4 linked regions of the Homo sapiens genome follow. The protein of the gene in region 1 purifies or fractionates together with the protein of each later gene. This does not show direct contact. Each region holds a gene or a part of one and is shown in the gene's direction. Other genes may lie near its edges.

Region 1 (5,028 bases):
TATTTTTAGTAGAGACAGGAGTTTCACCTTGTTTAGTAGAGACAGGCTGGTCTCGAACTCCTGACCTCAGGTGATCCGCCTGCCTTGACCTCCCAAAGCGCTGGGATTACAGGCATGAGCCACTGTGCCTGGCCAGAAAGCCTTCTTTATTGAGCTTGGTGGCAGCCCAAAACTGATTCTTTAAGGGTGTCAGGACTTAACACCTCCTGTGACTTAGCCGCACCTCCTCTCCTTTGACTTTCATTCCACCTCCTTCCAGGATCGCAAGGTCCCTATTTGTCCTGGAAACGGCTTCAAGGTAGTCTAGGGTGCCGTTTGCCGGGGGAGGAAGGTGCTCTGGTTGATAGAGTCGCCTGGCCGCACACTCTTTTTGGCACATAACAACGTTCTACAGAGCCGGGGTGGAGCGTGCTTTCTCATAAGTGCTCTGCAGGTTTGGAGAGAGAGGATATGAGGAGCACCCTTTTCTGTTTTTTTTAACCCAAAGATTAGCTTGGAAAAGGGGCAGAGGGGTGCACTGGAACTCAGGTCTGCCTAAGCAGCACAGCAGACCAAGGTCTAGAGATGACATCTGCTCGCAGCTGTTCTTCCACCAGCCCGCATCCTGGAAAGGGGTCTTGTGGCACACAAGAGTTCACATCCTTCCCTCGTGAAATAAGGACTTTGTGTTCATCATCTCTTGTAAGAAGCAGAGCAGAAAGCACAGAATTAAGAAATAAAAGGGAAGTGGGTGCCTATATAAAGGGAAGTGAAAATGGGTTGCTGTCCCATGCAAAGACCCTGGAAAGCTGTTAACAGCTCAGCTTGTCACTTTCACCATCTGCATTTGTCCAGAGTGATTGAGATTTGCGTTGTTGTGGAGAGAAAGGCGCCTGTTGCACAATGGAGTGAGATTGCCACTGCTGTCAGGACCTCTGTGTTTGGCTTGACACTTTTTGAGTTCTCAGCAGTCTCGGGACCCTCAAGAGTGGAAGCATTTTTGGATGTTAAATGCTGGGGTTAATTGAAGTTAAGAGCTTGTTTTACTGGGCATGGTGGCTCACACCTATAATCCCGACACTTTGGGAGGCCAAGGCGGGCAGATCACTTGAGTCCAGGAGTTTGAGACCAGCCTGGGCAACATAGCAAAACCCCATCTCTACAAAAAATACAAAGCTGGGCGTAGTGGTGTATGCCTGTAGTCCCAGCTCCTTAGGAGGCTGAGGGGAGCAGATCTCTTGAGCCCAGGAGGCAGAGTTTGCAGTGAGCCATGATCGTGCCACTGCACTCCAGCCTGGGCAACAGAGTGAGATCCTGTCTTAAAACAAACAAAAAAAACAAACTTGTTTTCATTTAGACTCTTCCTGGCGTTGGGGACCTATTGGAATAGGTTTAGTGTGAACTGAGAGCTAGAAGTGTTAGAGGAGAGAGGGAGGGAACAGAGCCCGCTGGAGCGAGTGCCCTTCCTACCTTATCACTGCATGCCAGGCATGTGCCGGCGCTTTGGTCCTCCTCATTTCATTCTTGACTGCCACCTGAGACACGATGGTTACTAGCTCCATTTTATAGGTGGTGAAACTGAGGCTTGGGGAAGGTCAGACCCCAAGGGTGCCATTTAGTCAGTGGCAGAGCCAGATCCAAATGCAGGTCTCCTGACTCCAAGTGCAGGGCTCATTTTATCGTCCGGTTGCAGCACGCTGGCGGCCCCTTGAGCCCCAACCTGGATACCATAGGGGAGGAGCAGAGAAGCCAGGAACACCACAGCCCTGGGCCAAGGTGCGGGGCTGAAAGAACTTCCCAGCGCTCAGCCTGGGACTAGTGGAATGGGCTGGGCCCTGGGGCTGGCAGCGGTGGCCCCGGGGAGCCTGGGAATGAGTAGGGAGCACAGGGAGGTGTGGGAGGGCCTGGGAACCATGAAAAGGAGGGCGGGTGCAGGGAAGTCGCCTGCTAGTGAAGTGGCGAGGGGGCCCTGTGGGACTCCAGGGAATGGCCACGGCAGGTTGTCCTCCAGGAGTTGAGAGCCACTGGACATGGCAGCTGCCTGTGTTCTCAGCCACCACAGTAACCAAAGAAATCTTGGTTTTAAAATTCAAGTTGCCATGGAAACGCTCCCATCCTCGACTTGGCTTATTATTTAAAATAACATCTCTACAGCACAAAGCCCCCGGGTACATCCAAGGACACTGCTGTCTGCCCACGAGACATGCTAACCTCACAGTGTGGAGGCTGTGTGGGTCACTGACATGCATGGCCACGTGAGACGCTGCCTACCCACGAGTCACGGAAAAGGGGAAGATTATTAAGAAAGTCACTAGGGGCCAGGTCCAGTGGCTCATGCCTGTAATCCTAGCACTTTGGGAAGCTGAGGCAGTTAGATCCCTTGAAGCCAGGAGTTCAAGACCAGCCTGGCCAACATAACGAAACACGGACTATACTACAAAAATTAGCCAAACGTGGTAGCACAGGCCTGTAATCCCAGCTACTCAGGAGGCTGAGGCACAAGAATCACTTGAACCTGGGAGGTAGAGGTTTCAGTGAGCCAAGATTGCGCCACTGTACTCCAGCATGTGCCACAGAGCGAGACTCCCATCTCAAAGTCACTAGGGAGGAAGCCTCATTGGTGGGAAGGAAGACCAAATTGGAAATGCTCTGAGGAATCATTAAAACAAATGTCCTTTTATCAGTTTGGTGGCTCAGGGCCTTTAGTAATACTGCCAACTATTTTTCCTAGAAGAAACAAAACTGAAATAATAGGAACATACTCACTTTTTTTTTTTTCTTAAAAGTAAGGGTATGTTGTGAAAAAAAGTCTCCCCACCGTAGTGACCGACTGCCGTGCATCTTCCTTGGCATTTTGCATGTAGTGGCAGGAGTGTTCCTACATGTGTAGATTGCTGAGAGGGTCAGATGCTTATGGTCCTCAGTCACCCACAGCTTGCTTTTTCCCCACTTAACATTGGGACTTGGGGCATTTTTACTCTGTTAATACAATAGAATTCACTTCAACTAGTTGGTTTTTTACTTTTATTTTATTATTATTATTTTTAGATGAAGTCTCAATCTGTCGTCCAGGCTGGAGTGCAGCCTCTGCCTCCTGGGTTCAAGTGATTCTACTGCCTCAGCCTCCCAAGTAGCTGGGATTACAGGCATGCGCCACCACGCCTGGCTAATTTTTTGTATTTAGTAGATACAGGGTTTCACCACCTTAGTCAGGCTGGTCTCTAACTCCTGACCTCAGGTGATCCAACCGCCTCGGCTACAGGCATGCGCCACCGTGCCCCACCAACTAATTGCTTTTTTAATGGTTGCTTCATATTCTATTTAACCACTTACCGTAATTTAACAGTTACTCTGTTATTGGATACTTGATTCATTTCCAGGACATGCAGATTTAGAAACTGGTGGGCGTTGCTGGTTGATGTCTCGGTGGTTGTGCCCACCCACCCCAGGCACTCATTATCATGCCTTCCGTTTCCCCACTTCCTAAGCCCTGCAAGAAGTGCCAAACTGTCCAGCCCTTGCCAATCTGATACATGCTGAATACCTCCTTGATTTTATCTGCACCTCCCTGAGGTTGAACTTATTTTACTTTATTTTATTTTATTTTTGAGGCAGAGTCTCACTGTCACCCAGGCAGGAATGCAGTGGTGAAATCTTGGCTCACTGCAATCTCCACCTCCTGGGTTCAAGTGAGTTGAAGCAATTCTCCTGTCTCAGCCTCCCAAGTAGCTGCGATTACAGGCACCTGCCACCACACCTGGGTAATTTTTGTATTTTTAGTGGAGACGGGGTTTCACCATGTTGGCCAGGCTGGTCTCAAACTCCTGACCTCAGGCGATCCACCTGCCTCAGCCTCCCAAAGTGCTGAGATTACAAGCTTGAGCCACCATGCCGGTTGAACTTATTTTTATCTGTGTTGGCCATTTGTAGTTTTTCTATTATGCTGGTTCCATTTTTCTGACTTTGAAGAGCCTTTTGTGGAAACGAAGCCTAAAGTATATGTGAGTACTGCTTTGTTTCGTCAGTTTTTGTTTTAAAGAGACTTTTCAGTGTAATGCAAGCATTTTCCCTTGAAGGCTGTGTTTCCTGTCAATCCTAAGCTTTCCTCCAGCATTACCTTTTTAAAAAACTTTATTTTCTATATTGATGGGGTCTCACAATGTTGTCCAGGCTGGTGTTGAACACCTGGCCTCAAGTGATCCACTTGCCTTGGCCTCCCAAAGTACTGGGATTATAGGCATCAGCCACCGCACCCAGCCTGTTTTTCAAAGGGCATTGATTTTTTTCATAAAACTTTTTAAATTAAGATCTGTGGGCCTGGTGCGGTGCCTCACGCCTGTCATCGCAGCACTTTGGGAGGCTGAGTCAGGTGGATCACGAGGTCAGGCGTTCGAGACCAGCCTGGCCAAAATGGTGAAACCCTGTCTTTACTAAAAATATGAAAATTAGCTGGGCATGATGGCACATGCCTGTAATCCCGCTGCTCGGGAAGCTGAGGTAGGAGAATAGCTTGAACCCAGGAGGCAGAGGTTGCAGTGAGCCGAGATCATGCCATTGCACTCCAGCCTGGGGGACAGAGTAAGACTCCGTCTCAAAAAAACAAAACAATTCTGTGTTGCATGTGGTACTTTTTGTGTGTGAGGAGTCCAGTGTGAAGATTCAGACTTCAGGCAGCCACTTGTACAAGCACTGTCCTGTTTCCTCTCTGGCCTCACCTAGGTAACGCTGATTCCTCCACGGAGGATGTGCTTCTGAGTGGTCCGTTGGGTGCTGTGCTGATGAGCATCACCCAGCATTTTACGACACATGTGCTGCCCCAGAGGGCTGGGCTCCCGTCAGAGCTCTTTTCCACTGGCTGGGTGCGGTGGCTCACACCTGTAATCCCAGCACTTTGGGAGGCTGAGGCCAGTGGATCACCTGAGGTCAGGAGTTCGAGACCAGCCTGGCTAACATGGTAAAACCCCATCTCTACTAAAAATACAGAAATTAGGTGCGTGTGGTGGCGCACACCTGTAATCCCAGCTACTTGGGAGGCTAAGAACCTGGGAG
Region 2 (5,028 bases), on another chromosome or scaffold:
CATACCTATTTTAATTTTTATTTTTGTAGAGATGGAGTCTTGCCATGTTGCCCGGGCTGTGCTTCATCACTTCTGTAGTAATTATAAATCTTCCGAGGATTAAAATGCATATCCACTAAGGAAAAAGTTATGGCATCCCAAATAATTTGGGATTGCTTTCCCAAGGAAATTTGGGGATACATTCTCAGCCTGATAGGGTTCACATCAACCAGAAATTTCTACTTGGGTGTCAGAACTGGGGCTCCAGATATCTAGAGCAATGTCGTTTTGTTTTCTATCTGCTGTGTCAGTACCCTCCTGTTAGAGCATCAGCCCATGTCTCCTGGTTTCAAGTTACAGAATACAGATTGAGCGTCCCTAACCTGAAATCCACAGTGTTCCAAAATTCAAAATTTGAGTGCTGACATGATGCTCAAAGGAAATGCTTAGTGAAGCATTTCAGAGTTCAGATTAGGGATGTTCAACCAGTAAGTATGCAGATATACCAAAATCGGAAAAAATCCTAAATCCAAAACACTTCTGGTCCCAAGCACTTCCGATAAGGGATACTCAACCTGTAGTGAAGACTGAGGCATCTGATATTATAACTCACTTCCTTCACTGCTTCAAGTGGACTTTGCATTTGTCTCTCAGAATATTAAAATGTCATCCATTTGTATCCTGCCTGTCTGTTCAAGGCTTTATCTTATGATCACACTACTAAGGTTATGCTTTTGATACTACGTATCTTTTGATCTATCAGTTTCACTTTCAGAAATCAATTAGACAAGTGTATAAAAGTAAGAATACAAGGATGTTTTCAGCAGTGTTTATAAAGCAAAAAAAAAAGGTAAATGGTTTAAATCTTCATCATGGAATTAAGTAAAATACAGTAAAGATGTTCCTGACTTACGATGGTTTGACGTATAATTTTTCAACTTTACAGTGGGTTTATGGGATAGTAAATACATTTTTAGCTAATGATATTTTCAATTTATGATGTGTTTATCAAGACACAGCCCCAGCCGGGCACAGTGGCCTGTAATCCCAGCACTTTGGGAGGCCAAGGTGGGCGGATCACCTGAGGTCAAGTGTTTGAGACCAGCCTGGCCAACGTGGCGAAACCCCATCTCTATTAAAAATACGAAAAATAGCTGGGCGTGGTGGCGGGTGCCTGTAATCCCAGCTACTTACAAGGTTGAGGCAGCAGAATCACTTGAACCTGGGAGGCAGAGGTTGCAGTAAGCCAAGATCGTGCCATTGCACTCCAGCCTGGGTGACAGAGCAAGACTCCATCTCAAAAAAAAAAAAGAAAGAAAGAAACAACCCCATCTTAAGTCAAGGAGTATCTGTGTATCCATACATTAAAAATGTGTTATAGGCCAGGCGCGGTGGCTCACGCCTGTAATCCCAGTACTTTGGGAGGCCAAGCCGGGTGGATCACCTGAGGTCAGGAGTTCGAGACCAGCCTGGCCAACATGGTAAATCCCTGACTCTACTAAAAATGCAAAAATCAGCCAGGTGTGGTGGCACATGCCTGTAATCCCAGCTACTTGGGAAGCTGAGGCAGGAGAATCGCTTGAACCTGGGAGGCAGAGGTTGCAGTGAACCGAGATCACGCTGCTGCACTCCAGCCTGGGCGACAGAGCAAGACTCCGTCTCAGAAAAAACAAAAATGTGTTGTAGGCTGAGCACAATGGCTCACGGCTATAATCCCAGCACTTTGGGAGGGTGAAGCAGGAGGATTGCTTGAAGCCAGGAGTTCGAGACCAGCCTGGGTAACAAAGCCACACCCCATCTCTACAAAAAAGTGTTTAAAACATTAGCCCAGTGGGATGGTGCACACCTGTAGTCCCAGCTTCTCAGGGGGCTGAGGCAAGAGGATCGCTTGAGCCTAGAAGTTTTAGGCTACGCTGAGCTATGATCACGTCACTGCCCTGCAGCCTGGGAGACAGAGCAAGACCCTGTCTCAAAAACATAAAATAAAAATGTGTTGTGTATATATATTTTTAATGTTTAAAGGATATGAATATATTAAATGGGAAAAGCAAGAAAATAGAAAGTATATTAGCCTGTTTTTGTTAGTGAAAGAATGTGTGTATTTCATGTGTGTGCGTGTGCATGTATAGAGAAAGAGTGCTGTTTTAATATATGCCGTTTACTTAGCTCTGAGAGGTAAGCGTTCTGTTTGTTACAGGATTAATACCCCTCGAAGACAAGGAGGACTTGGGCCAATAAGGATTCCACTTCTTTCAGATTTGACCCATCAGATCTCAAAGGACTATGGTGTATACCTAGAGGACTCAGGCCACACTCTTAGGTACCTTTCAGTGGTTTTATATTATGACAAATCCAAGCGTGTTTATAATCCTCCTTGAAATAGATGTTATTTATGAAATAGAAGAACAAATTTTGATCAAGAAATATAATTTTGAGGCCAGGCACGGTAGCTCAAGCCTGTAATCCTGGCACTTTGGGAGGCCACGGTGGGCAGATTACTTGAGGTCAGGAGTTTGAGACCAGCCTGGCCAACATGGTGAAACCCTGTCTCTACCAAAAAATATAAAAATTACCCAGGCATGGTGGCGTATGCCTGTAGTCCCAGCTACTCGGGAGGCTGAGGTGGGAGAATTGCTTGAACCTGGGAGGCGGAGGTTTCAGTGAGCCCAGATCATGCCACTGCACTCCAGCCTGGGCGACAGAGTGAAAAAAAAAAAAAAGAAATAATTGGCTGGGCATGGTGGCTCACGCCTATAATCCCAGCACTTTGGGAGGCCGAGGGGGGCAGATCATGATGTCAAGATATCGAGACTATCCTGGCCAACCAACATGGTGAAACCCCATCTTTACTAAAAAATACAAAAATTAGCTGGGCATAGTGGCATACGCTTGTAGTCCCAGCTACTCGGGAGGCTGAGGCAGGAGAATCGCTCGAACCCAGGAGGCGGAGGTTGCGGTGAGGCGAGATCACGCCACCGCACTCCAGCCCAGGCGACAGAGCAAGACTCCGTCTCAAAAAGAAAAAAAGAAAGAAAGAAAAATGTTACTTTGTTCTATTAGTCTTTAAACTACTAAACTTAAACCGTTAGTTTATATTACCCTGATTAAACTATGTTAGCATCATAGACTTTTAGAGCTGGAAGATTATTTAGAGGTCTTTCACCCACCCTGTCATCTTACAGATAAAAGAGACAGATTCATAGAGTTCCGTGATCTTAGCCAAAGTTATATAATAATTTAATTGCAGAGCCCAGACTTAAATCCAGGTCCCCCAACTCCTTGTCCATTTCTTTTTCCTTTTTTGCAACCTGACTCCAGTAATGTTTTTTTCTAAATACAAGTGTCATACTACTTAGCAAACCTGTGTCTTTGGAGTAGGAAAAATTAAGGAAATATTTTACCCAGACGCTCTCACTGGGTTACTTGAGCTAACAAACATTAATAGAATTCTTTGAAAAGGGGGCAATTTTAGTGTGGAACAGTTGTAATTTGGTTGTATTGATTTGCTTTGTAGTGCCAATAGTTTTTCTTGAATGTTTTATGTGAAAGTGTCAGTATTTTATAATCCTGTGTTTTTTTATAACAACTTTATTGGAATATAGTTCACATATAATACAATACCCATTTAAAGAATACAATTCAGCTGGGCATGGTAGTTCATGCCTGTAATCCCAGCTCTTTGGGAGACCTAGGTGGGAGGATCCCTTGAGCCCAGGAGTTTGAGACTAGTCTGGGCAACATAACAAGACCCTTGTCTTCTACAAAAAAAAAAAAATAATTTTTTTTTGTTAAATTAGGCCATTGTGGTGGCACATTCCTGTAGTCCCAGCCTACTCAAGAGGCTGAGATAAGAGGATCGCTAGAGCCTGGAAGTTCAAGGTTGCAATGATCTATGATCACACCACTGCACTCTCGCCTGGGTAACAAGAGTGAGACCCTGTCTCTAAAAAAATAATTAAAATTAAAAATAAAGAATACATAGCCGGGCGCAGTGGCTCACGCCTGTAATCCCAGCACTTTGGGAGGCCAAGGCAGGCGGATCACGAGGTCAGGAGATCGAGACCATCCTGGCTAACACGGTGAAACCCCATCTCTACTAAAAAAAATAGAAAAAATTAGCCGGGCGTGGTGGCGGGTGCCTGTAGTCCCAGCTACTCGGGAAGCTGAGGCAGGAGAATGGCGTGAACCCTGGGGGGCGGAGTCTGCAGTGAGCCGAGATCGCGCCACTGCACTTCAGCCTGGGCGACAGCGAGACTCCGTCTCAAAAAAAAATAAATAAATAAAGAATACATTTCAGTGGTTTTTGTGTATTCACAGAGTTGTGCAACCATCACCACAATTTTAGAATGTTTTCATGCTCCAAAAAACCCCATACCCATTAGCAGTCACTCCATGTTTCCCCTAACCCACTTCCCCTGGCTTTAGGCAACCACAAATCTACTTTATGTCTCTATAGTTGCCTATTCTGGACATTTCATATAAATGGAATCCTACAATATGTGCTTTTATGACTAGCCTCTTTCACGCAGCATAATGTTCTCAAGGTTCATTGTATTGTATCATGTATTGCTACCAGTAGTTTCCCCTCTTTTGTACTTGCTAAGTATTTAATGTTTTCTGCTTTCATAAAATCTGTTACTAAGTTAATTTCCAAGAATAAATATGCCCCAAAAACGACTGAGGCAGTTTTAAAATGTGGAATCATTTGAACATTAACCAAGTAAAATTATCTAACGTTAGCTATATTATTTGACCTGAGCCAGTAGTTTCTTTTTAAAATTTTTTTGTTAAGGCCGGGCATGGTGGCTCACGCCTGTAATCCCAGCACTTTGGGAGGCCGAGGCAGGTAGATTGCTCAAGTCCAGCAGTTTGAGACTAGCCTGGGCAACATGGCGAAACCCTGTTTGTACAAAAAATACAAAAATTAGCTGGGCGTGGTGGCACACACCTGTAGTCCCAGCTACTCAGTAGGCTGTGGCGAGAGGATCACTTGAGCCCAAGAGGTTGAGGCTGCAGTGAGCCGAGATCATGCCACTGCACTTCAGCCTG
Region 3 (5,028 bases), on another chromosome or scaffold:
TATATAATCCCTTCTAATATATACTTAGTATATACTTAATATAATATTGGGAAAATTGTTACTCCAAAGCACATCTTGACATGACATAGTTTCTTAAAAATCCAAATTTTCTGGAACTCAGAAATTTCCTAATATTTAGCACACTGTCTTCTTTTGCACAGCACTTTTTGCTTTGTGCCATATAGCATTACTCTGTACCTTCACAGTATTTCATCTGAGCCACTGAGGAAAGTTAAAGGTTGCACTTCCATTTTACAGTTAAGAAAACAAGCTCACCTTAGGCATGGTTACTTAATTAATTTCAGAATTAAATTTCAGGTTTCCTTAGTCCAGATTGTCCTGATGTGTATTCTGACACCTAAAATTATATAAACATTTATGGGATGCTTATTTTACTAAGACTAGAATGGTGGCTACCTGGCTAATAACATTCATCATTGGTTATTCTGGGCATATCATGACTTTATTCCCGTTGCTTACCATCTACCTGGGACACATCTCTCTTTGATTAAATATATTCTTTTTCTTTGTACTTTTTAGGTAGACAGAGAATGTAGATCATTGAAAGCATTATTTATTCCTAAGATTGGCAGGCACAGAATCATTTTTAAGAACCAAATACCCAGTCCTGCCTTAAAGGCCACATCTATGATCATCAGCTCTGTTAGAAATAACAGCCTGGCATAATTCCTAAATACAAGTCTGTAGATATATCCAGGAGATAGGGTTACACTGTTTTCTAACCTTTTTTAAATCCCTTAATCTTGAGGTAAACTGCATGCATTTAGTCAAACAAGCATCATAAAATTTGTTTCCTCACTGTTTGGGCTTAACCTCCTGATAGCCTGTTTTACTGAATAACTTGACCCTAACCTGTAGAGAATAAGAGCATTCAAATTAGGAAGGCAGGACTATCCATCTTTAGTGCTTTTCCTGCCGTTAAACAACAATGTGAACTTGGTCAAGTCATTTCTGTTCTTTATCTGTGACATGAGGTAACTGTATTAAATTTTCAGCATCAAATCCAGCTATAAATTTGTATTTTGTAAACAAGAGAAAGTAAAGCAGGAGACAGAATGGAGAAGCTGGATAGTGTTTTTTTTTTTTTTTTTTAAGGTTCTTTTATCATCAGATATGACACAAAGGGAAACATCAAAATGCACCGTAAAGTTAAATCCTAGTTACCTTTTTTTGAAGCTGTTGGCAAGGTTTGACCACTTGGGGCATCTTCTGCTGTGAGATGACACTTGAAAAACACCCATCAAAGTTTTCCTGGTAGGAATCTCTCTTTACTGCGTGTTTTTTTGAAAAGCTGACAGAGAATATGCTTTGGCTTTGACACTAATGAAGTCACCCATCATCAATTACATACAGCTAATTGTTGGGAGCTAGAGCTAGAATCCAAGCTTTCTGATTCTCTGCATGGAAGAGGAAATGCTCTAGGGCCCTTCAGGGCAAATCTTAAAAGGAAGTTCTTGGCCGGGCGCGGTGGCTCATGCCTGTAATCCCAGCACTTTGGGAGGCCGAGGTGGGTGGATCACGAGATCAGGAGATCGAGACCATCTTGGCTAACACGGTGAAACCCCATCTCTACTAAAAATACAACAAATTAGCTGGGCGCGGTGGCGGGTGCCTGTAGTCCCAGCTACTCGGGAGGCTGAGGCAGGAGAATGGCCTGAACCCAGGAGGCGGAGCTTGCAGTGAGCTGAGATAGTGCCACTGCACTCCGGCCTGGTGAAAGAGCGAGACTCAGTCTCAAAAAAAAAAAAAAAAGGAAGTTCTTAGTGTGTAATTGACCATCAGGGATAAATGGGCTTCAAAAGTGTTAATTGTCTCCTTACTTACAGTGAGTTTCTAGAGATAGCCCTGTCTTTCAGAAATTCTCTGACATCTGCTTGCGCAATGTTATAACCACTTTCCCACACTACTCCCCTCCAGAAATCTCATTGATATGTGGCGAGGACACGCCTTAGCTATCACCCCAATGGATGCTTCTTTCATTGACCCAAATCCAGAATGTAATGGGGAACTGAATACAAGTTGGATGTCTCCACCCTTGGAAAGCACATCTTTTGTTCTTACTGAAGTAGTTTAACACCACCAGATGATCAAGGGATCAGGGTATCTTTCTGGTATCTTTTTAATCACTGAAGGACTTTGACAGCAGTAATGGTGGCATTGTTGACTCTTAAATTTCTGAACGTTTCACTTAATGGCAAGTGAAGAGATATAGAATCCCCCAAAGAGTGTCAAGATGCTAACTTCCAACCCTATTTTTATGTACTGAAGAGGCCTCAGTGTCTCACTGAACTCTAACCTTTTTGTCAGTGTTCCTCAACACTGGATGCGTATTATTACATAACCTGAGGAGTTAAAAAATACAATAACCAGATGTCCAATTAAATAAAATTAGAATCTGGAGGAGGTAGAACTCAAGCATTTACAGTTTTGTTTTGTTTTTTTTTTAAGACAGAGTCTCGCTCTGTCCCCAAGTGCAGTGGCACAATCTCGGCTCACTGCAAGCTCCGCTTCGTGGGTTCACGCCATTCTCCTGCCTCAGTCTCCCGAGTAGCTGGGACTACAGGCGCCCGCCACTACGCCCGGCTAATTTTTTTGTACTTTTTAGTAGAGACAGGGTTTCACTGTGTTATACAGGATGGTCTCGATCTCCCGACCTCATGATCCGCCCGCCTCGGCCTCTCAGAGTGCTGGGATTACAGGCGTGAGCCACCACGCCCGGCAAGCATTTACAGTTTTAAATCTCCCAGTCAGAATAAATTCTTATTGAGGGCCATACCTAGCCTGTCTTCATCAAACTCATAGGTGAATCTTTGTCAAACCTATAGGAGAGAGATGCAGGCCATAGAGATGGTCTTGCTGAAGGTCTTATAGCTAAATTAGTTCAGATCCAGGAACCAGATTCTGGAACTGATTGCACCTATATTATGTTGTGTGTCAGACACTCCCAGGACCTGTTTGGTAATAATTAGGACAGCTGACATACTTGTTGCTAATTTTGAGATCTGGGCAACAACTGTGTAGGCTGTTCTTTCAACCTCTTTCTTCTTACTTCTTTACTTTTCCTTCAGAGAGGAGAAAGCCACCCCTGTGCTATAGCCACCGCTCCAATTCTGACTCTAGCTAGGTCATGAAACAGACTGAGCTATTATTGCATCAACACATAAATCCTGTCATTTGGGTATTATTCTTTAGAGAACTAGAGATTACCTAGCTGCAACCTAAGTTTCCTGAATTAGAATCATTTGAGCAGCACCATCTTAATTGGCTCATTAACATATTTGTGACCAGGCACAGTGGCGCATGCCTGTAATCCCAGCACTTTGGGAGGCCGAGGCGGGCGGATCTCTTGAGGTCAGGAGTTTGAGACCAGCGTGGCCAACATGGTGAAACCCCATTTCTACTAAAAATGTAAAAATTAGCTGGGCTTGGTGGCGCGCGCCTGTAATCCCAGCTACTCGGAAGGCTGAGGTGTGAGAATCACTTAAACCCGGGAGATGGAGGTTGCAGTGAGCAGAGATTGCGCCACTGCACTCCAGCCTAGGTGACAAGAATGAGACTCCGTCTTAAAACAAAAACAACATATTTGTTCACTTTTGAACCCTGTGGTGTCTTTTAACTTTGTTAAGGGCCCTTGGTTAGCAAAATTATGAAAGTTTAGGAAATTTGGCTATTGAGTATATTAAGTACAACTACAAAATCCTCTGAGTTCTCCAGGAAGCCTAAACCTTGAGCAGTATCTTATTCAAGTGGAGTATATATCTTCAAGAATACAGATTTTTAAGGTAAGTAGTTTTTCGTCTTTGCATCTCCTAAGACCATTGTTAACAACCTTGATATTAAACGAAGAAGTGAATGTAAACCTCCTTTTGAACATATTTTTTATAAAGAAATATTTTGTTAATTGGAGTAAGTAGTATTGTTATGAAATCACTGTGTAATTGTTAATTGTAAACTGCAATGTCTATTTTGTGTTGTAACAATGTTGCCATAAAATAGCTTTGCTAAATGTGAAATGACTTTAATCCCTTTTGTCTTCAATATACTTCATAAAGGAGGAAATGATGATTTACACAATTTGTCATGAAGCTTCCGTGTTTATGAGAAATTCCAAGAAGTAAGAGCCAAGAGGACAGATATTATCAGAATATGGGACATAAGAAATTGCATATAGTGTCAAGGGTTTCTATATAACAACTTAATTTATTTCCCTTGCATATATAGTAGGGGTTAACATTTTGCTCAATGTTAACGGGGGACATAATGGACATAAAACATTGGATAGCTTTTTATTTAAATGAGCTAAAGGTGTGCGTATACACATGCACTTATAAAATTAAAGTCATATATGTATATACACACAGACTTATGTGACTTATTGCATATTCATTTACGTTTGACCAAATCTTTTGTCAATTTCTCAAGAACAAATTAACCTTTATTTAATACATAAATCAGGTCCTTTTAAGTGTTTGGAACTATGTTATCAGAGTTGATTAAACCCATCAAAGTAAATGTACTAGTGAGTCATCAATATGAAGATTAGAAGAAGTAATCACTTTGAGAAACTGAATTCCATAGTTACTTTCAGGCAGTCATATTACTGTGGTTTGTTTCCCTTCAAGTCAGTGCCCTTGCCTGGCCTTCTGTTATCTGAGAAGAGTGTATTTGAGACAACTATATTTTGAAAATTTTTTTACCGTTTTAGCATAATTCATAACAAAAGTATTAGGTTTCTAATCTCGAACTCCTATATTTCAAAACTGACATTCTGTCTCTTAATACTCCTTTTATCAAAAGCTATATTAAGCACCACACAGCTGTTTTTGTTTTTGCTTTTTGTTTTTTTGGTAGATTATTAGTGAGTTATTCTAATGAATTTATATAGATTATAAGAAAAGCAGCTAGGAATCTTATGTTAACCTCACTTTTCAAGTAGTGTGTCAAATTCTAACCATTAATTCCTTTTTTTATATTTCAGAATGCCATTCCATATGTATATATTACTGT
Region 4 (5,028 bases), on another chromosome or scaffold:
CCAGCCTGGGTGACAAGAGCGAGACTCCGTCTCAAAAAAACAAAAACAAAAACAAAAAAAGAATGGAAGCTCCAAAGAAGAGGGGTTATTTGCAGAGTTCGAGTGGTAGGAGGGGAACAGGCCCTGTGCTTCCCCATCTGAATACAGGTTCCAGGGCTGCTGAAAGATTAGCCGCAAGATACATAAGTTACCTGGCACTGTATCTGGCAGGTGTTCCCTCATTGGTCGCTTTTTGCTGTAAGGTCAGAGACCAGGCCAGATGAACACCTGCAATCTGCCCACCTTTAAAGAATGTAGGGGCTAAGGATGCAGGCTCCAAATGAGATGGAGCCGAGTTGAAGCTCTGGCTTATGAGCCTCAGTTTCCTCACCTGCAAAATGGGTATAATAATAGTAGCTACTGGCCGGGCGCCGTGGCTCACACCTGTAATCCCAGCACTTTGGGAGGCCGAGGCGGGCAGATCACTTGAGTCCAGGAGTTTGGGACCAGCCTGGGCAACAGAGTGAAACCCTGTCTCTACAAAAAATACAAAAATAAGCCAGCCGTGGTGTGGCGCCCATCTGTAGTCCCAGCTACTCAGGAGGCTGAGGTGGGAGGATCACTTGAGATCGGGAGGCGGAGGTTACAGTGAGCTGAGATTGCATCACTGCATTCCAGCCTGGATGACAGAGCAAGACCCTGTTTCAAAATAATAATAACAATAGCTCCCTCTTGGGACTCCTAGGAGATGTGAAGAGATCACATAGGTAAGGGCTTCACCCTGGAGGCCATTGTTAGTGTCCAATCCTCCCCACCCTGCCCATCTGGTCCTGAAAGGACTCATTTGAGTCTCTCCAAGCATCTGAAGGGAAGGCAGGCCAGAGATTAAAACCCCCATTTTACAGGTGAGGAAACAGGTGAGAGGGTAAGTGTACAGTCATTTTCCCGTTAGAGCAGAGACGACGAATTCACACTCTCACTGGATTTCTTTTTTCTTTTCTTTTTTTTTTTTTTTTAAGATGGAGTCTCTCTCTGTCTCCCAGGCTGGAGTACAGTGGCATGATCTCAGCTCACTGCAACCTCCACCTCCCAGGTTTAAGCTATTCTCCTGCCTCAGCCTCCCAAGTAGCTGGGATCACAGGTGCCCACCTCTATGCCCAACTAATTTTTGTATTTTTATAGAGACGGGGTTTCACTATGTTGGCCAGGCTGGTCTCGAGCCCCTGACCTCAGGTGATCGGCCCACCTTGGCCTCCCAAAATGCTGGGATTACAGGCGTGAACCGCCGCACCTGGCCTCACTGGATTTCTATACAAACTCAAGAAGCAGATCATGATTCTCATTTGGTAGATAAGGCAATAGAAGTGTGGGGAGGGCCGGGCGCGGTGGCTCACACCTGTAATCCCAGCACTTTGGGAGTCTGAGGCGGAGGGGTGGGAGCGGGGGGATCAACTGAGGTCAGGAGTTCGAGACCAGCCTGGCCAACATGGTGAAACCCCGTCTCTACTAAAAATACAAAAATTAGCTGGGCATGGTGGCAGGCGCCTGTAATCCCAGCTACTGGGGAGGCTGAGGCAGGAGAATCGCTTGAACCCAGGAGGTGGAGGTTGCAGTGAGCTGAGATCGCGCCATTGCACACCAGCCTGGGGGACAAGAGCAAGACTTCTTAAAAAAAAAAAAAAAAAAGTGCACGGAGGAATGAATGAGCTCAGGATCACATTCCTAAGAAGTTAATGATGGAACCAGGGGCTTGTCTTTGGAGCTCACAGCTTCTCGGATCTGAAGCTGGGGTGTCTTGGGGGAGGGGCACGGGTCCCAGCATTGGTAATGTAGCTGCTGGCTGGAGGGCTTAGTCACCCGTAGTGAACCCTCTGGGGCCTCCCCAAGCTGCTGGGCAAACTTCCTACCCACAGGGTGGCCAGTGCAGATCTGCCTCCAAGGGGCGACAGGAAGCCGGGGTGAACAAGGGACAAACTGGGTCTGGTCGCACCTGGTTACCCGATAGGAGGGAAGGCCCCCGGACAGTGGGCCCATGTGTGGGTGACTTCTGTCCCCAGTCCCTTGCTCAGCACTGTCCTCTCACCTCTGTAGGAGTTTCTGTGTGACCAGAAGTACAGTGATGAAGAGAACCTTCCAGAAAAGCTCACAGCCTTCAAAGGTAAGCTGGGGCGGGCTGCCCTGCATTTATTCCTGGGGGAGGTGGGCTGGCCCCTCATCCTTGCACACAGGACCCCTCAGCCCCACAGGACTAGGCTGTGGCCCTGTTTTGTCCAGAATGCCCTTCTTCCTGGAGAAGGCTTGGAGACAGGGACCCCCTGAGAGGTGGGGAGAGGCCCCTCCACCTGCCTCCCTGCCCCTGCGGGCCCCGTCACCCCTCGCCTGCAGCCCGGTCCTGGCCCTGCCCCTCTCTCTCCCCTCACTGCCCACGGGGCTCAGGCTGGTTCCCGTCCGCCGCTGCCCAGGCCCCGTCACTCCCGGGCCCCGCACACAATCAGCTCTTTGTGAGCAAGCCTTGCCTCTCCCCCTCCCCAGCAGAGCGTCTCAGGAGCCCCTGCGGAGAATGGACGTTTGTGTCACCGCAGTGGGGCAGGGGGGCAGAGTTTCTGCCCATTGAAACCCGGCAGCACGGGATGAAAAGAAAGCAGGGCCTGGGAGCCGGCGCGGGGAGAGGGGCAGCATAAAGGTCCCTCTGTTTGGGGCCCTGGCGCTTGGTTCCCAGCCAGCACCTCGAAAGGAGAGGAGCCGGGCACATAGGGGGCAGCGCAGACCCACCTTCCCTGCCAGGGGAGGCACTTAGGCGCAGGAGCCCTGGGCTGTCATGGAAAATATCCTGGAGGTTGCATTCCCCTCCAAAGTGTTTGCAGTGTGAGCATCCTCCCGGCTCCAGGGCAAAGAACTTGGCCAAGTGTTCCTCAAATCACTTCCAGTTGTCCTTAGGCTGGACATCTAGGGCTAATCATATTAATAACAGCTGGCATTTGTTGGACGTCGGCCTGTGTGAAGCACTTCTCGTGCGGCGTGGCGAGCTCCCCACATCACCCCAATCGGCCTGGAGGAAGATGGCGCACTTGTTAATGTGCAGATGGAGAAACTCGGGCTTGGAGGGCGGGGTTGTTGGCATGGGGACACATAGCTCGCCTAGGGCAGAGTTGGGACTTGAACTCATGTCGGTCTGGCTCCAAAGCCCCTGCTCTCAACTGTTACGCTATGATGCTTTTTACATGAAGAAGAGAGAAGGGAAATAGTAAAAGACACTCCTGACCCCACCCCATCCCAGCCACCTGTAGGAGAGCTGTGAAAAAGAGAGCAGTCTATTCCCTTCTGTCTGCATACCAGCGTGGCCACTCCCAGGGGTGGCTCTGGGAGGAGGCACGGGTCTCAGGGCTCTGGCACCCTTTCTACTTGTCTTCACTGGAATGTTGGGCCAGACAGGAAGTTACATCATTCACTCATTTGTTCTCCAAATGCGCACCTGTACATGTGCCAGGACCATTCCAGGCCAGGGGCACCATGGTGAACGTAAAAGGCAGCTCCCACCCGGGAGCCTGTGTTCTCGCTCGGGGGGCGGTGTGAGAGGTGGTGGGAGACTAAACAGAGAGCCGGGAAATACAAGGTTAGCAGACTGTGGTAGGTGCTTCAGTGAGAAATGAGGGAGGGAGGACAGGAGTGCTCAGCTGTGGGGAGGGGGTGCAATTTTGAAAGGGTGGGGAGGCCAGGCACGGTGGCTCACACCTGTAATCCCAGCACTTTGGGAGGCCGAGGTGGGTGGATCACCTGAGGTCGGGAGTCCAAGACCAGCCCGGCCAACATGGCGAAACCCCATCTCTATTAAAAATACAAAAATTAGCTGTATGTGGTGGTGGGTGCCTGTAATGCCAGCTACTCGGGAGGCTGAGACAGGAGGATTGCTTGAACCCAGGAGGCAGAGGTTGCAGTGAGCTGAGATCAAGCCACTGCACTCAAGCCTTGGTGACAGAATGAGACTCCATCTCAAAAAAAAAAAAAAAAAAAAAAAGCATAATGGTTAAGAACGGGGGCTTTGGAGCCAGACTAACATGGGTTCAAGTCCCAACTCTGCCCTAGGTGAGCTGTGTATCCCCCCTGAGATCACGCCACTACACTTCAGCTTGTGTGACAAAGTGAGATGGAGCAAGACTCCTTCTAAAAAAAAGAAGAAAAAGAAAGGGTGGGGAGCCCTGAAGCCATGAGGAAGGGTGCTGAGAATACTTGGGAGAACATTCCAGGCAGAGGGGCAGCGAGCTGGAGCAGGCAGGGAGTGGGCGGGGGCAGCACAGCCTGCAGGAGGGCCTCGGCTTTCTCTGCTGGCTGCTTGTGGGGCAGGATGGACCATGAGGGCCCCACTCTGCCCGGGCAGGGGGTGACCTGCAGAGGCCCCACGGTCCGTTTGACACACTGCTCCCATCTGAACATACCAAGCCCACTGCTCCGACATCCTCCCTCACTGCTAGAAGTTTTCCTGGACTCCTTGATCAGGGAAGTATAACTCAGTCTGTGTGTGAGGTTTGGGGTGATGGTCTGTGTACCCCGGGAAACTGTATGTCCACTTTGTGGGCTAGGGCAGGCCTTTTTCCTGGTTTCAGAATCACAGGTCCCCTGAATCAGTGGTTCCCACACCCGGTTGCCCATCAGAACTGCCTGGGACGCTAAAAAGCACACCCATGCCTGCCCCCACCCTGTCCTTCCACACCCATGAGCCAGAATCCTGGGGCAGGGAATCAGAGCTAGTCACTTTGCTACTAACTCAGATGCAGCTGGTCTGTGCTGCTGGGGACCCGGGAGAAAGCAGCTGCCCTCCTGGTAAGAGGGTCAGAGTGGCCCCCAGCCATCTTTCCCTCGTGGCACCTCTAGGAGAGTAGTCCAGGCAGGATGAGCTCTTTCCCCAGAGGCCATGGCTCAGCGGATGGGGGACTCAGGTCAAGACCCTTGGTAGGGTGCGGGAGGTGGTTCAGACTCCTGAGGACACGGTCATTTGCCCACAAGGGAGCCACTGGGTCCCCACAGGGAGACGCTGCTTCCAAACTAATGCTA

The links.
Region 2: the proteins of CTSB (region 1) and PRDX4 purify together in Homo sapiens (affinity purification with mass spectrometry, with the first as the bait; one large-scale study listed by BioGRID). This does not show direct contact.
Region 3: the proteins of CTSB (region 1) and GMPS fractionate together in Homo sapiens (co-fractionation; one large-scale study listed by BioGRID). This does not show direct contact.
Region 4: the proteins of CTSB (region 1) and AIF1L purify together in Homo sapiens (affinity purification with mass spectrometry, with the first as the bait; one large-scale study listed by BioGRID). This does not show direct contact.

What each region holds. Positions count from the first base shown.
Region 1 is NC_000008.11:11,854,585-11,859,612, reverse strand, and holds part of CTSB (cathepsin B isoform 1 preproprotein), read left to right. Parts: intron 1-1,672; exon of another isoform or gene 1,673-1,755; intron 1,756-5,028. UniProt on the Homo sapiens protein: Thiol protease which is believed to participate in intracellular degradation and turnover of proteins. Cleaves matrix extracellular phosphoglycoprotein MEPE. Involved in the solubilization of cross-linked TG/thyroglobulin in the thyroid follicle lumen.
Region 2 is NC_000023.11:23,676,989-23,682,016, forward strand, and holds part of PRDX4 (peroxiredoxin-4 precursor), read left to right. Parts: intron 1-2,176; coding exon 2,177-2,299; intron 2,300-5,028. UniProt on the Homo sapiens protein: Thiol-specific peroxidase that catalyzes the reduction of hydrogen peroxide and organic hydroperoxides to water and alcohols, respectively.
Region 3 is NC_000003.12:155,939,646-155,944,673, forward strand, and holds the end of GMPS (GMP synthase [glutamine-hydrolyzing]), read left to right. Parts: 3' UTR 1-4,375; downstream 4,376-5,028. UniProt on the Homo sapiens protein: Catalyzes the conversion of xanthine monophosphate (XMP) to GMP in the presence of glutamine and ATP through an adenyl-XMP intermediate.
Region 4 is NC_000009.12:131,109,527-131,114,554, forward strand, and holds part of AIF1L (allograft inflammatory factor 1-like), read left to right. Parts: intron 1-2,070; coding exon 2,071-2,137; intron 2,138-5,028. UniProt on the Homo sapiens protein: Actin-binding protein that promotes actin bundling. May neither bind calcium nor depend on calcium for function.